2 separate regions of the Homo sapiens genome follow, and region 1 is linked to region 2. Evidence: fine-mapped expression QTL. A gene starts in region 2. The other region holds a variant in brackets. All regions are shown on one strand. Distances are between the middles of the regions.

Region 1 (8,332 bases), 130 kb after region 2:
CCTGATGGCTTACAGGAAGAACATCCTGGCTTGCAAGGGGCCAGGGGCCAAGTCATATCTGTTGAAGGCCATGGACATGGAGGAAGATTAGAGTCTTAGGAACCTTTCTGAAAATGTGGGAACAAAATTCATATATAAAGCAGAAATGGCATTAACAGAAAGAGCATGGGCCAGACAGACTGGGGTCCAAATTAGAAGTCTGCCATAGCTAGCTTTGAGACCCTTGCTTAACCATAAAGTGATCATCACATTATTTGCCTTGCAGGGTTTTTGAGGATTCAGTGAATAATGTGTACGGTTCGTCCAGCACAGAGCGTGGTATGTTGTGAGGATGATAGCTAACACCTCGTGATCCCTTTTGTGTGCCAGGCACTATCCTAAGCTTTGTAGGTAGTGCTTTGTGTCTTGAGTCAGATTCCATAGAAGCAGAGCCTTGTAAATTTAATGAGAGCACTCCCAGGAGGAGGGGAGTGAGGGAAGCAAGACAGGGCAGGCGGGGGAAGATGCTCTGCAAGGATGTATCTCATAGTAGGAGATTTCAACCTGGTTCCAAGGGGAGCCTTGGAGAAGAGATTGCTCAGCCACTGGCACCAGTTGCTCCCTGGAGTTGGGGATATACCTCCCAGGAGAGGCAGGTCTTGTTCTGGGGGGCAGGTCTCTGTAGAAGTTTGCAGCCAGCACTCCTAGCAGCTGAGAGATGGGTGTGCAGGCCCAGTGGAAGGAGTTCGTGTGGGGCACAGTGGCACCCACTGTGGTTCATCCCTCTATCCTGGTACAGCTTCTCTGGGATTCTGTTTAGTCCCAGTTTCTAGGAAGCTCTGTAAGGAAAGGTGTAATCGCCTGAATTGTGTCCCTTCTCTACCCTCTACCATTCATACGTTGGAGCTCTAACCCCCATGTGACTGTATTTGGAGAGATGGCCTATAAGGAGGTAATCAAGGTTGGCATAATACAATCTGATTGGTGTCCTTACAAGAAGGGAAGATTAGAAATCCAGAAAGAGACATTGGGGATGTACACACAGAGAAAAAACCACATGAGGACTCAGCCAGAAGACGGCCATCTGCGGGCCAAGTGGAGAGGCCTCAGGAGAAACTAACCCTGTTCGCACGTTGATCTTGGACTGCCAGCGTCCAGAGCTGTGAGAAAATAAACTTCTGTTGTTTAAGCCCCGTGGTCTATGGTGTTTTGTGATGGTAGCCCGAGCGGATCCATGCAGAAGGGCTAGTAGAGCAAACTCTAGGCCCTGCTGCTGCAATTGTTTGTGACTCTCATCATCTCCTTCCTCCTCTACCCATTCTAGATTTCATGCCCCCTCAGCCTGCTTCAAGGTCTCGTTTAGGCAGCTTGTCTGGTGGGATGATCCCAGTGGCTCTGGTTACCAAGCCAGGATCCACCTTGCATTTAATTGTAATAGTCTCTTCCAATCTGTGATGTCTTTCCTTGTCTTACGTGACCTTGACACGCTGAAGAGTTCTAGTCAGTTGTTTTGTAGAATGTCTCTCCATTGGGTTTGTCTGATGTTTTCTCCAGATTAGACTGAAGCTACGTGTTTTTGGCAAAAATACTACAGACGTGGTGTTGAGCCCTTGTCAGTACATCCTTATAGGGGATATGTGATATTGATATGTTTTATTACTGGTAATGTTAATCTTGATTGCTTGGCTAGGGTGGTACTGGCCAGCAGTCTCCATCATAAAATTACTCTTTTTTTCCCTTTTGCCATTAGTACATTGGAGGATGTACTTTGAGACTTTGCAGACATTCTGATTCATCTCAACTGTTAGCCCATCGATTTTAGTATAGATGGAGGCAGATTTTCCGGACCCTTTTTATAAGGCAGAGTTGCCTTCTTTCTGCAATTCTCCTGTCAGGAGTGGATTTGGGGTGCCCTGCAGAGGCTGTAGTCACTAACTCTCAACTCTCACTGGCAGAGAGTGAGTTCCCATCTCTTTTTTTTTTTTTTTTTTTCCTTTGAGATGGATGTTAGCTCTTGTCACCCAGGCTGGAGTGCAATGGTACGCTCTTGGCTCACTGCAACCTCAGCCTCCCAGGTTCAAGCGATTCTCCTGCCTCAGCCTCCCAAGTAGCTGGGATTACAGGAGTGCACCACTATGCCCAGCTAACGTTTTTGTATTTTTAGTAGAGATGAGGTTTCACCAAGTTGGTCAGGCTGGTCTCAAACTCCTGACCTCAGGTGATCCACCCACCTCAGCCTCCCAAAGTGCTGGGATTACAGGCATGAGCCACGGTGCCCGGCCAAGCTCCTGCCTCTTTAAAGCTAGCGAGTGGTTGATTCTTCAGAGGCCACAGAACTTTAGCCCTTCCCTCCCTCCTTTATGCATTCCCTCACCTGCTAATTTACACTTCTGTCTCATGTTTCCTTCTCCTTCCTCTTCCTTTCTCTGGGGTTCTTGTTGAATTAATTATGGCAGGAAAGACTGGTGTAAGGGTACAACCCACACAGAACTTTGCACTCTATATACATGGTAAACGCAGGGGTGCTTTAGGGATCATTGACTCCTACCCTCTTATTCTACGATGAGGAAATAGGGAGAGTTCAAGTGACTTGCTCAAGGTCACACTGCTAGTGGGTGGCAGATAGATTGGGTCTAGAATCTGACTTGCTGACCTACATGTATCGTGTGTCCCAGCATGCTGCGTTCCTCAGGGCTAGTCATATGGGGACCTGTTCAGGCCTTCAGAAGGGGGCATCCACTGGCAAGCAGCTGGATCCACACTGCTTCTCACCATGCCCCTGCCAGGAGGTGAAGGCTTGCTTTTCCTTCAGTCTTCAGTTTCTCTGCCTCAGTCCTGGGGAAAAGAGTTTGCTCTCTGTGTGGTTGGAAACTGGGGGCCCAATGCCTCTCTGTGGGAGGGGCTTCTCCCTGCAATGAGTTGCAACATTGTGAATTGATACAGCAACCTACTGGAGAGCCCAGAGCCTCACTAGCTATCCAGATCCAGAGCTGATGGGTACCCCCTTGCCTTTTTTGGGGAGGAAGGGGGAAGGGAGATGTTCACTTTTATTCTCATCTTTAGTCAGCTTCTCCTCTTAATTGACATTTACTATGTGCAAGCCACTGCTTTTTACCTACAGTATTTTCATTTAATTCTTAAAACCCTGTGAAATAGGCATTATTCTCCCCATTTTACAGGTGATGGAACTGAGGTTCAAACAGGTTAAGCAGCTTCCTCCAAATCACATAAACAGTAAGCAGTGGAGCCAGTGTCAGAGCATAGGTCTTGAGAAAATTTAGGTTCATCTGTTTTCATTCCTTAAGTGCAGCTTTCATGAAATCTTACAGGGACAGAAACTTAAAGCCATTGTCTGCACAATCGTTATTTTTAGATTGTCAGAGTCTATAACACTTTTGTAGTGTTTCATGACCATTCCCATAGCTGTTTACTTTTAGTTTTGTAATTACATAGATTCAGTGCTCTACTGGTTCTTCTGCTCCATTCTTGGGTTTTTTATTTTGAACCACCTCTTCATTGACTGCATGTGGGAACAAAATTCATATATAAAGCAGAAATGGCATTAACAGAAAGAGCATGGGCCAGACAGACTGGGGTCCAAATTAGAAGTCTGCCATAGTGGATTCTAGTGGCTGCTTCAAAATGGGCTCATAGGTGCTGTCATCCCTGAGCTTGGATGTGGGAATATCACACTCCTGCTGTCCGTACTTGAACGGCACCTCAGCAGGTTAAAATGCTTCTGGTCACATTTGGACTCAGCCCCGTGGGTGTTGCTTCATTATCCGCTGACATGGAAAGCTGCCGCGGGGAAGTTTGAGGTCAGCTGAACATTTCCCCTTCTGTAGGTGACTTGTTGGTTCTGCCTGGGTGCTTGATGATTTCTTTCTTGCATTTGGAAGTTCGATACCTAAACCAGGAAACATCTTCGTGTCAATCCCTTTGTATCAATTTTTTATGGAATGTGGTGTGCAATTTTGATGTGCAGACTCAGATCTTTATTCATCTCAGGAGGTTTTTATTTAAAAAGATGAAGACTGTTTTGTGTGTTCCATCTGTTTCTCTGCTTCAGGTTCACCAGTTTTCTGATGTTGGATCACCTTTGCTCTTTCTATACATTTTATTCTCTCCTGTAGTTGCTTTAATAATTTAAATCTTTCTCCTCTGAGTCCCAGTGACTTGCCCAAGGTCCCACTGCTCAAGAGTGTCAGAGCCAGGACTGGAACCCTTTAGTTGGTATCAGTAATTAGATTTCCTGCTGTGCCTGCACTGCTTCTTGGAGTTTCAACATGTATTTATTGGTTCTGCAAAAGTGTTTTGTGGTTCTCAGTTTTATCATTCTTTATTCCATTGCTTTATTTAATCATCTAATCCTTTAGCTCTTATTTTATTAAATTCATGCTTTTAAGCTATTCCATAGCATGAAGCACGTTTGGGTAATTTCCTTCCATTTGTTTAGTTGTTTTTATTTAGACTGGGGTTTTTGTTTTGTGTGTGTGGGTGGTGTTGTTTTTGGATTTTTTTTCATACTGTGTTCCATTTTGTTGGTTTGTTTGGTTTTGGTTTTGGCCCCACCC[A/C]CACAGGGGCATGTTTGCATCATTGCCATGCAGTTCCTTTGCATCTTGCTTGACCTACACACCCTGATTCAGGGCAAGTTCATTCTTAACCCTTTTTTCACCATGTCTGAGCCTGTTCATTTCCTCCACAAGGCATAGTTTGAGGGCTGTGAGTTCTGTGTCTGTCCCCTTGTCTGTAGCCTGAGGGCCTTGGTGGAGTGAGGTGGGAAGGGAGAGCTGCACTGAGGCTGTGAGCAGTTTTTATTACCAACCTCTCAGAGAGAAAAGCCACACTCCTGCCTCCAGGACACACGCTGTTTTGTGGAAGAGACCCAATAAACAGGTAACTATAGGTGCTGCCATAAGAAGAGGGGACACTATTAGGTTGCAGGGACCAGATTTGCTTGCTTCCTTAAAGTCATGGTGGTGGCAGTTTAATGGAAGGATGCCAGTGTGTGGGAACCAGGGTTAAGCCAGACCAAAAGTCCAGGGCAGTACTTGCAGACCACGGCAAAGAACTTGGCCTTTATTCTGTGAGTGGGATCCAACCGTGTCTTAGAAGAGCCATTCCAGCAGCAGTGTGAAAAATTAAATACAGGTCTAAAGACATAAATCCCCAGCGCTTATCTGTTGGTCGGCTCTGCAAAGAGAATGAGGAGATATCTTCTGTACTGGAAACTGTCACCAAGGAGTAGAGAATTTCCTGAGCAGACTGGCGTTCCCCACCCTTCTTTGCCCCTGCCCGTTTCAAACACCTTCAGCTCCTGGGCATCAGCTGAAGAATGCCTAGCTTTTCCCCAGTGCTGTGGATCTCTGGAGATGTGTTTCCCGGCTGAGCGTTATGGCAGCCAGAGCCAGGCGGCACGTCCAGAGAACACATCTCAAGGTTGTTGTTTGAAGTACAAACAGAGCAGGGACCAATTATGGAGTCCCTCTGCACAGCATGCCTCCTGACTGTGCTCGGCATGGGGTGGGCAGAGGCTGGCAGAGCTGAGGAGCCAGCTTTGGCCCCCTGAGGGGTAGCTGGGAGGGAGAAGGGAGAGTATCATAGATTTATTTGCTGCCAGACAGGTCTGCCAGTGTGAGCTCATCTTTCAGAGAGGCGCCCTCTCCTCTTAACAGCCAGGTGCCTCCTGTGGCCCCAGGGTGGCACTGGATCCTAGATCCTGTGAGCAGAATTTTGCATCTATTTCTGGGGAAGAAAAGACCATGGCTTCTATTACACTGAAAAATAGGGCCCTGTCTCCTCAAATAGTTAAGGATGCCTCTGCTATGTAACCCCTATATTTTATAGGTGGGAAAAGTAACCAGAGACCCAGTGAGCAGAAATGGTTTACCCGAGGATTCAAGGTTGTGGAGGCCAGATCTAAAAGTCAGCTCTTACTGCCCCATGGACATACAACGTTGTCTTCACTTTGCTACCAAAGTGGTAGCTATTCTTTTTTGAGTGCTAAAAGTATGCCTGGCACAGAGCTTAGTGCTTTACTTATTTTAGTCCATTAGATCCGTAAAATGGCATCACAGTTTTGCAGAATAGACAGCCAGACAGCTAACTCTCAGTTGAGGGAGAGAGGTTAAGTCACTTCCCAAGGTCACAGAGACAGTAACTGGAGGAGAGATTGCAGACCCAGCTCTCGTGGGTGTCCACCCTCCCTATCCCTTCCCTCCCTCCTTCCTGTGCTTCTGTCTCAGTCTAGTTAATTCCTGTAGGCCTAGGCCAAGGCTTGCCTCCCTGCTGAACCTCTCCCTGATGGCACCAGCCCTTGCTGGTCTTCTCTTTTCTGAAAAGCCAGGCCCATTGAAAGTTTTTTGTAGGCAAAATGGTTCTGGTTTCCCATCTTGCCACTTCCTTGCTGGCCACAGTTGATCAGATTGAGAGTATTCCAGGCAGAAAGCCCTATGAGATGGGATGAGATGGATGAGAAAGGGAAGAACGGCCAGTGTGGCTGGAACATAATGAGCTAAGAGGGATGGGGAGGGGTAAGTGTGGAGAGTTTGCAGGTTCTGATCAGGCAGGGCCTTGGGGGCCACAGGAAAGAGTGAGGACAGCATTCTGAGTGCAGTGGGAGCCGCTGGAGGGATTCTGAGCCAGAATGGGAGAGACGGGAACGAATGTCATCTTGAGACAGAGTCTCTCTCTGTTGCCCAGGCTGGAGTGCAGTGGCGCAATCCCGGCTCACTGCAAGCTCCACCTCCCGGGTTCACGCCATTCTCCTGCCTCAGCCTCCCAAGTAGCTGGGACTACAGGTGCTCACCACCCCGCCCGGCTAATTTATTTATTTATTTATTTTTTGTATTTTTAGTAGAGATGGGGTTTTACCGTGTTAGCCAGGATGGTCTGGATCTCCTGACCTCGTGATCTGCCCGCCTTGGCCTCCCAAAGTGTTGGGATTACAGGCATGAGCTACCACGCCCAGCCACAGATGTCGTTTTTAAGAAGGCGACTTTGGGCCAGGCGCAGTGGTTCACGCCTGTAATCCCAGCACTTTGGGAGGCTGAGGCAGGTGGATCACCTGAAGTCAGGAGTTTGAGACCAGGCTGACCAACATGGTGAAACCCCGTCTCTACTAAAAAGATACAAAAATTAGGCAGATGTGGTGGTGGGCTCCTGTAATCCCAACTACTCAGGAGACTGAGGCATGAGAACCGCTTGAACTCAGGAGGCGGAGGTTGCAATGAGCCAAGATCATGCCATTGCACTGCAGCATGGGTGACAGAGCAAGACTATGTCTAAAAACGAAACAAAACAAAACAAGGTGACTTTGGAAAATGAATTGGAGGGATCAAATGCAGTATTCCAGAATGCAGTTGGTGGTGGTTGGGTATGGTTGTAGAGATGGGAAAAGGAGGGTGGCTGGATGGAGGCATGCTTTGCAGGCAGAACCAACAGGACATGGGGATGGGTTAGTTGTGTGTGGGTTCAAGTGATTAGAGTGAGATTTAGAATGAGGAAGAAGGAATTGTCGAGGGTAACTCTCAGATTCCTGACTTGTGCAGCTATGTGGCTGGTGGTGCCATTTCTTTACTTGTGAAAGCCTGGAAGAGGCACCAGTTCCAATGGGCAAATCAAGAGTTCCATTTGAAATCCATGCAAGGTGAGATGCTTGTGAGACCTTAAGTGGGCATGTCCAGTAGGCGTTTTTTTGATATTGTTCTGGAGCTCAGAAAAGAGATCTGGGCTGGAAAACTATATTGGAATCCTCCATCTATAGAAGGTTGTCAAGGCACAGGAATGGAGGAAGTCACCTGTAGGGAGAGTGTAACGAGTGGAGAGGAGGGACCAGGGCTAAATCCATGCACACTTCCAACAATGAGAAATCAGGGGAAGGGAGGAGCCAGAGAAGGAAATGAAGAAGATGCCAAAGTCTGAGAAGCCCAGGAGAAAGTATTCTGAAACAGAGAGACAAGGACCCTCGAAGGGGGGCTTTTCCAGGGGGTAGGATGTTGCTGAAGGGCCAAGGAAGATGAATGTGCCAAATTGTGCCTTAGTGCTGAGCATCCAGTAGGTGCCCAATAAATGTGAGATCCTCTTCCTTGCCCTCTGCCTCCTCCATTTGTTCTTCTTTCATTCTTTCTGCATATCTATTGGCCTTTTCCCTCAGTTTACAGTAAGAACTCAAGAAATAATGAATAAATAAATGAATGCATGAAGTGAATGAATGAAGTGAATTGCAAGTTCTGCTGTCATTATCTCCCCTCCTGCAGCCCGGGGCATTGATTTTGTTCAAGGGCTAAGCCAGATGCAAGTTTCCTGGGAACCTATGGCCCTTGTCTAGCAGAGGGCCCTCCAGGGAGCCATT
Region 2 (8,332 bases):
GCTCTCAGATTTGGTTGTCTGAAATTGGGGACCTGGGGAGTGACATCTGTCCTTAGATCCTTCTATTTCTTCTGCCTGTGCTGCCCTCTGTCAGAGTCTCCTCTAGATAATTCAAGGGAAATAATTTTCTTTTTCTTTCTTTTCTATTTTTTTTTTTTTTTGATGATGGAGTTTTGCTCTTGTTGCACAGGCTGGAGTGCAATGGCGTGATTTCAGCTCACTGCAACCTCCGCTTCCCGGATTCAAGCCATCCTCCTGCCACAGCCTCCCGAGTAGCTGGATTACAGGTGCCTGCCACCATGCCCGGCTAATTTTGGTATTTTTTAAAAGAGACGGGGTTTCGCCATGTTGGTCAGGCTGGTCTCAAACTCCTGACCTCAAGTGATCTGCCCGCCTCGGCCTCCCAAAGTGCTGGGATTACAGGCGTGAGCCACTGTGCAGGTCTCTTTTACTTTTCTTTAGGCAAACTGGGTCACACCTTCATGCTAGAACTTTGCATATTCTATAGGGGCTGGGGGGGGGGTGGGGGAAATTTCTCAGATCACCACAGGGCACCATCACTGAAGATCAAACCACTTTACACAACCAGCAAAGACATATCATTGTAGCAGTATTAAGTTTTACACTTGGCATTTGGGTGAGAAACAAAGAAAGTTTGGGGCATTTCAAACAATAAAAGAAGCAGGCTTTTGAAATGCAAAGATATAGATCCCTTTCAAGGAATCGAATATAAGAATAAAAGGAGGGAGAGGAGTTGAGGGTAGTGGGCTGGTGAAAGGAGTTGTTTAATGGAAAGAGAAAGATCCAGAAAGGTGACTGTCAGATCCCTTAGATAAAGCCACCCATCTACCCGTCAAAGATGAGAGGAAAATCCAGCTGGCTTTATTCTTTTGACAAAGATTCACTGATGTGGCAGAAAGATGAGGTAAGGGGTTGGTAATAGCTCATCCTCATTCACCACGTGGTTTAAACTATTCCATCACTCACTCTATAAGAAAGCCTTGCAGGAAACCCAGGACATGCGGTTTTGACAGGATCTATAGTGGCAAGGAAAATGGAGAGGAACACAGAGGAAAGGGGAGCTGATGTATTATTTACAGTGGAGAACTTGAACAGAGTCAACTGCAGGAGTCAGCCCAAAGACTTGTATCTGTATGACTGTGGAATAAAGACAGACAGATCTTTGAATTTTCACTGCCGCTCTTTTTGCTGCTGGGCCAGCATGTGTGCGACTCATCTTCTCACTGTGCTGCAATCTGCCCTGCTACTGCTTACCTTTCCCTATGGCCCAGAAGAGGTAAAGACCTCAACAGAAACCTGTCTGGGCCTCTGTGGGTGAAATTTCGTTAGGTTGGCACAGAGGGTGTCTCGCTGATTGTGACAGGTCTAATAAGCGTGCAGATGGCAAGAAGCACACACACAGCCACTCGCGCACACACAGCCTCCCTGAAGTCATGCAGTGGGCAGAGAGGAGGGACTCAGAGAATCTGATCCAAAAGGAACAAAGGCTGCAGCCTCTGCAGTGGGCTGAGCGAGAATGATGGGGAGACGGCTACAGGAAACGAGAAGCGAAGTGTGAGAATCCACAGCAAAAGCCGCCACAGAGCATATGCATCGGACTTCACAGCTTCCTCCTGCTTCCAGCTTGCATTTGCTCCATATGCTGCTTTACACTGCTTTCCGGGCCATAATGGGTTTCATTCCATAGTTTTTATACTAACATGAATGACTCACATCTGCTCCAGTACCCAATTTGCTCTCTAATGTCTTCGGCTGTGAGGAGAGAACAGCTTACACAGAACTCGCCAACAACAGGAGTGGTAAAGAAGGTCCTGATCCAGGACAAGAAAGGTCAGAACCCTAAATGCGTCAGCTGGGAGGGTCTTTGAGAGAACATGACATTGCCGATGGGAAACCACAGACCCAGAGGAATGAGGAGCTTGGCTCAACAATATCAAGACTGAGGAGGTAGATCTGTTTTAGGAGATCCAGGAGAACCAGGAGAGTCCTAGTTCAGAGTGTATTTATTTTTTTTCATTTCCTGCCATGTTAAGTCTTTTGCTAGGAGCTTTTCCTCCCCATATTGGCTGTGATAAGAAAAAAGTAACTTGGATTAATCGCCAATGATAGCTAATCCCCCGCTGGGATCAACCATACTCTGCATTACTTAAGCTTGTTATTTTATTTATTCATTTTTTGAGACAGGGTCTCGCTCCATCACCCAGGCTGGAGTGCAGTGGTGAGATCATAGCTCGCTGCAGCCTCAAAATCCTGGGCTCAAGTAATCCTCCTGTCTTAGCCTCCCAATTGGCTGGGACTAGAGACACCTGCCACTTCGCCTGGCTATTTTGTTGTTGTTGTTGTTGTTTAGAGACAAGCTCTCGCTATGTTGCCCAGGCTTAAAGCTGGTTATTAAAGCGTTTCAAATATATTCCTGAGCATGGGGGACCCCTGGATAGACTGGGTTCCTGGAGAGACCTACAGAACTAGGCCCCGCATGGACACTCACTTCACTTCCAGATGTTTGAAGTCCCACTTGAAATCTACTTCAGTCCTAATGATATTTACTGGTTTGACAACCCAAACTGATATCTGATATGATCTCTGGATGGATCAGCTAATGACACCTAGCAAAACTGGATTCCCTTGACAGCTTCCATAGGCCCAGGAAATCTTCCTCACTTGAGTAGAGGACAAAATAATGATTTGAGAAGAAAATCATTCCTGGAAGGAAATTCCCACTCTCTGAGACATTGCAGTCCCTGCACGGAGCTGCCTTCACCCCAGGGCCTCAGTTTCCCCATATGCCAAACAGTCAGAATGAGGCACCTCAGCATCTCAGCAGTGTGGTGAGCAGCGTGGTGGTGCTGCACCATCTCAAAAGCTTGGCGGTGTTCTTGTGTAACTGTCTGCCATCTGTTACTCAGAAGCGGCATTACAAAGCGCTGAGCAATGGACTCCTGTGCTGCAGCTTCTGCCTGGAGCCAACAGCAGCTCAGCAGCTTGCCTGGGGGTCCCCTGCAGAGCCTGCAGCAGAACGCTTTGCAGGCCCGAAACTGCAGGTCCCGGGTGAGGCTCCTGAAAGAGGTCCAAGGTGCTTGGGATGCTGCAGAGGTGAGTTCTCTTGCTGCTCCCCCTACCCCTCCCATGATGATCATCTACCTGGGCCTTTGCTGGGACAAAGCATTGGCTGGGGAGCCTACTCCCACCTTTCAGTGTTCAGAGTTCTGATAAAGGCAAATGCTAGATCAACCCTGGGGTTCTGTGTGATGGTCTAAGAGCGCAGGTAGATCTTGAAAGGGCTGGCAACAGTGCTCACCTTTTCTGGGCTGTTTAATTTCAACTGCGGTTCCCAACCCCAAACATCTTATCTACAGTCCAGTCAAGAACTCTCTGAGGTTGAGGCAGGACTTCCCTGTGGCTGAAAGATAAGGTACCAAAAACAGGAGGCTTTGAGTAGACGCCTCCATTTCTCAGTACATGTCTTTGGGGAGACATCTTATTGAAGAAGGAATTCCAGAGCCCTGATTTACAGCTGTCTCACCTGTGCGGAGGTATGGGAGCTTGCCCTACACTGAGCTTTATGGGGAGAGAGGGGCAGGGAGAATGGTGGCTGCCACAGTGGGTGCATCGTTCTCACCTCCCCAAGAAACTCGATGAAGCAAGCAACCCTCCAACAAAAATGGCATGGTTCCCGCTGCCTCTGCTCCCCAGACAGAGCAAGGTTTCCCCACTTTGAGTGGTCAGATAACACCAGCACCTTGCATTCAGCTTTCACCACTACTCATTTGCTTGTCAGAGGAGGTATTTTCCCTCCATTTTACAGATGAGGAATCGAAGACTGGGAGAAGGTAAATGACTTACCCAAGACTCACACAGTGAGTGTGACAGCTAGGTCAGTACTCTCTGGTCAGTGATCTGGCCGTGATTCCAGCCTACTTGAGCCTACATGGGAATTGGAGTTAGAATTTGCTTTGCTTCTAGATCCAAGCGGTTTTAATCTGCAAGTGGGAGGGGGATACAATTCCCAAAGGCCCTTGGGAAAAGGGGCTTTTGAAAGATCACCCTCTGCACCCAGTATCCTCCTGCCCAGGGTCACTTTCCAAGAATCCCAAGTGGTTGTTCCAACTTTGGACCTCTTTTCTTGCAAGCACAAAGCCCTGATGCTTACAGGGAGAGAAAACCTTTATGGGAGATAATTGCGCCTTAATTTTTTAAAGGATATCTTTAAAGTTAAAATTAGACCAGCTCAGCTTTCCTTCCGTTAAGCAGAAAAAGTTACCAGGCACCTGCAGGCAGGCATAGAAACACCCTGGGGAGTTGGCTGACCGCGGCCTTGGCCCTCAGTAGCCAGGCAAGTGAACCGCGGGTTTGGGGCAGCAGCCCTGCCGGCGCCCTGGAATCCCAGCCTTGGCTGTGGTAGGACGAGCACATTGGGGGTGGGACCCCGGCTTCAGCGCCACGTGCAGCCCCCGCGATGAGCGGGAAAGTCCTCCCAGGCACAGCGCCGCCTGGCGAGGGCCGGCCCTTGGGTCCCAGCTGGCAGCTGGGGGTGGCGGGCATCCCGAGTGCACCGCTCCCGCCCCGCCCCGCCTTGCCCCAACCCACGATGGTCTGGGAGCTGCGCCCAGGGCTTGGCGCTGGCGGCCCCGCAACAGCACCGAGCGTTTCGGTCGGCGGGCGGCGGTAGCGCCCCCTCTCAGAGCCCCGCTCACTCCCACCTGGGCTCGCTCCGAGTCGGCCTGTCTGTCGGGCCCGCCCTCCCCGCTCACTCCCTCCGCCCTCGTGCTCCTCCCGGGGTGCTTGGCACAGCCTCGGATTCCTCCCTCTCGCTGCTCGAGTCAGTTTCCCTATCGGCGGCAGCGGGCAAGGCGGCGGCGGCGGCGGCGGCAGCCGCGGTGGCGGCGTGGGGAACATCTCGGCAGCCACCGCGCTTCTCCCGCTGGAGCGGGCGTCCAGCTTGGCTGCCCTCGGTCCTTCCCTGCCACGTTTCGGGTCGCCCTGCACCCCCCACCCAGGCTCGCTTCTCTTCGAAGCGGGAAGGGCGCCTTGCAGGATCCTGCCGCCCCTCCAACCGGATCCTGGGTCTAGAGCTCCCCAGAGCGAGGCGCTCGCCAGGACTCCTGCCCCGCCAACCCTGACCGCCGGGGGGTGCCCCCGGGACGTAGCGCCGCGGAGAGGAAGCGGCAAAGGGGACCATGCGGCGCCTGACTCGTCGGCTGGTTCTGCCAGTCTTCGGGGTGCTCTGGATCACGGTGCTGCTGTTCTTCTGGGTAACCAAGAGGAAGTTGGAGGTGCCGACGGGACCTGAAGTGCAGACCCCTAAGGTAGGCGGCTTGCCGGCGCGCTGGCGCTGAGCGGTGGCTTGCGGGAGGGCGCGCAGCCCGCGTGCCGGGTTTGCGGGCTCCCGGGAAACCAGGGCGAGGGTCTGGGTGCTGCGAGCAGGTAACAGCCGCCGGATGTGGCTACCATGTGATGTTTCTGGATTTTAAAACGCTCGGGGGCATCTCCGGACCCGCGGTGTGCATGAGTGGCAGTGGGTGTGGGTGGTGGGCGCGCGCTCGCCTGCGGAGCGGGGCTCCCAACTTGAGCTGCGCGCGAGGGTCCCGGGGCGGAGGGGGCTCTGCGGACGGGCGGCCCAGGGGCTGGCGGTCTCCGGGCGCTGCCAGAGAGTCGCCGGCGGTCGGGTCGGGCCAGCGCCCGGGCGAAGTGTGGCGGCTGCGCTGACCTCCTTCCCGCAGCTGCCAGGCCCGACCTGGGGAGGCCGGAGGCCGGGTGCGCCGCGCGCGCCTGTGCGTTGCGGGCGAGCGCCTTGCAGCCTCCCGGGCGGCTGCCACCCCTGTTCTCTAACTGTTCCCGACCCTCTCAGCTGCATTGGAAGTTGAATGTGCCCAGAACACCACGAAAGAGCCTGTAAAAACAGACGCCTTGGTATTGGCGGGGAGTTGAGGAAATGGGAATCCAAGTGGCTTTTCCAACTCCTGCTCAGTCAGTTCCTGTGAGGGAGCCAGAAGGTTCCCCCTATAGGCTCACTCTTACCTTCAGATTCAGAGCCCTGTAGGGGGAAAGGGAAAACTTCCCCATGGCTCTCCGAAGGTTCACTGAAAATCAGTTGACAAAAGGCAGATCAATAGGAGAAAAGGCATAATAATTTATTTGATCATAGTTTTTCGTGACATGGTAGCCTTCCGTTTTCTCTTCACAGATTTGGCCCGGGGACACGGAAGGAGGCCTCTGGGGGATTTCCTGGCCAGCCAGGCAGTCTTTATAAACTGGGTCCAGAACAGTCGTCTAGGGGTCTGGGCAAAAGCCTTGGAGGAGCTTATGGTCGGAAATGGGAGACTGAAAAACAGGAAGATGTGGGCGGGAGGTGGCGTCTCACCAGTTAAGTACAGTACAGAGGGCCTACTGTGTGCCAGGTGCATAGTAGGTGCCTTCCTCATAAGTAGTTGTAGGAGTTGGGTGGTAATATGCTTGTTTCATAGATCAGGAAAACAGGTTCAGGGTCTTTAAGTCACGTACCTTAAGTCGTTCTACTGGTTTGAACTCCAGCCTCCACGCTCAGGGTTTCCAGTATATCAAGTTGCCTCTCGGTTTCCCCTTTTTAACCAAGTCTTCTAGCACTTATGTTCTGGAATCTTGCCAATGCTTTGTCGATTTCAACAAGCATTTATTTAGCACCTATTGTGTGCTCAGGCAGTGTGTTAGGTGCTATGGGTAGAGAGAGATAGAATTTACTCTCTGGGGGGAGAGGAGTTCACTCATCATTGGACCAGGATGTGAGGTGTGCATAGGGCTAAGAGGGTTCAGTGCACTGGGTGTCATGGGAGCCTGAGGTCTCCCTGGAGGAGGAGGACATAACAGAGCTGAGCTGAGAAGGATAAACAGGTTTGTCAGTAGGTAGAAAGGGCATTCCAGGTAGAGGTTAACTGCATGAAACAGGCTCAGAGGAATGACACAGCACGTTGTGTGAGTTTGGCATAATTTGAGCACAAAGTATGTGGAGGTTGGAGGGATAAAGTTTAGGGAGGTGTGTAGGGGCTGGGTGGGGTAGAATCTTGTGGGTGTGAGGACTCTTGGAGAGGGTCAGGCAGTGAGGTGGCGAGGCCAGATTGATGACTTCAAACCACCTTTAATAGCACCAGATCACTTTTCTCACTCAGCCCCTGCCCATAGATCTGGAGAGCTTTTCTTCTTTTTCCCTAGGTGGTTCTGCTCCCTGTGATGTAGTTAATGATACCTGCAGGGACATGAACTTTCTCTGTTTTGCTTCGACCCTCATTACCTTAAGCTTGCTTATTCTTAGTTTACACCAGGGATCTGGGACAAGAGACCTGTTTCTTTCTTTGTGCACTCTTTGTCCCTCCTCCTCTCCTGCCTCTTCTTATCCTGGCGTGTGCTCAGCACACATCTATCACAGGCAGCTGTATGCCAGGCTCTGTGCTGGGTTTGGGGGCTGCTATGATGAGCACGCTGTGTCCCTGTCCTTTGGCATGGGGGTGGGGGGCCACATAAGTTGCAGGATGAGGCAGAATTACCAACAAATGAGTGGTACTTTAAGGTGGGGAGTGGTTTAGTAGCAGAAGTCAGGACATTGTACTGTGCAGTCACAAAAGAGGAGGTTTTCTAGTTTTGAACCAGTTGCTCTTTGTCTTAACATCTTGTTCCTTCTTTTCCTCATTTTCTGTATCCTTCTAGAACCATGAATTTTTATAGACTTAGAAAATCTTGACACCTCTTACTATTAGGTGTCTTCTTTTTTTTTTGTTAGTATTTTTCTTCTTCCTGTTTTTCCCTTGTATGTATGTCGCTCTGTATCTTAGTGTGTATGTACCTGAGAAGAGAGGAAGAAAGACAGAGACTCCTTAGGTAACGCCAGAACAGTTTTATTCCCTGTGACTTTGTATGACAAGTCCAAATTTATATGACATGTCCAAAGGAGCACAGTGGTACCGAAACCTGGCTGCATGTCAGAATCACCTGGTGAGCTCCATTAACATGCAGATTTTTGGGCTTACTACAGAGATTATGCCTCTGTGAGTTTGGGAGAAGGTTCTAGAATTACTGTTTTTACCAGGGTTGCATGTGATTCTGAAGCAGCCTATTGATGGGTGGCATTTGGGAGCTAGATGAAGAATACCAAGTCTGTTGATCGTGGTTTGGTTGGCTGCATGTAAATATGGTCAAATGATTTTCTTCTTGAGTGTGCTTATGGACCTAACCCATGTAAGCCTATGCATGCATGTTAAATAACAGCCACCAGCATTTCTATAGGGCTTTACAAATTCACAGACTCCATTTACATATATTAGTTCATTTAATACTCACAACT

Evidence for each region.
Region 1: its variant is fine-mapped to the expression of GALNT14 in whole blood (TOPMed, PIP above 0.99).

The regions. Positions count from the first base shown.
Region 1 is chr2:31,008,937-31,017,268 of GRCh38, reverse strand. The region is part of intron 1 of GALNT14 (polypeptide N-acetylgalactosaminyltransferase 14); the gene reads left to right. Among named protein-coding and RNA genes, the nearest start is that of GALNT14, 130 kb to the left of the region's middle. The variant A/C (reference allele first, on the strand shown) is at 4,554.
Region 2 is chr2:31,134,953-31,143,284 of GRCh38, reverse strand. GALNT14 (polypeptide N-acetylgalactosaminyltransferase 14) reads left to right here and starts at 4,845. Exons shown (of 15, transcript NM_024572.4): 1 at 4,845-5,327. The coding sequence starts at 5,199.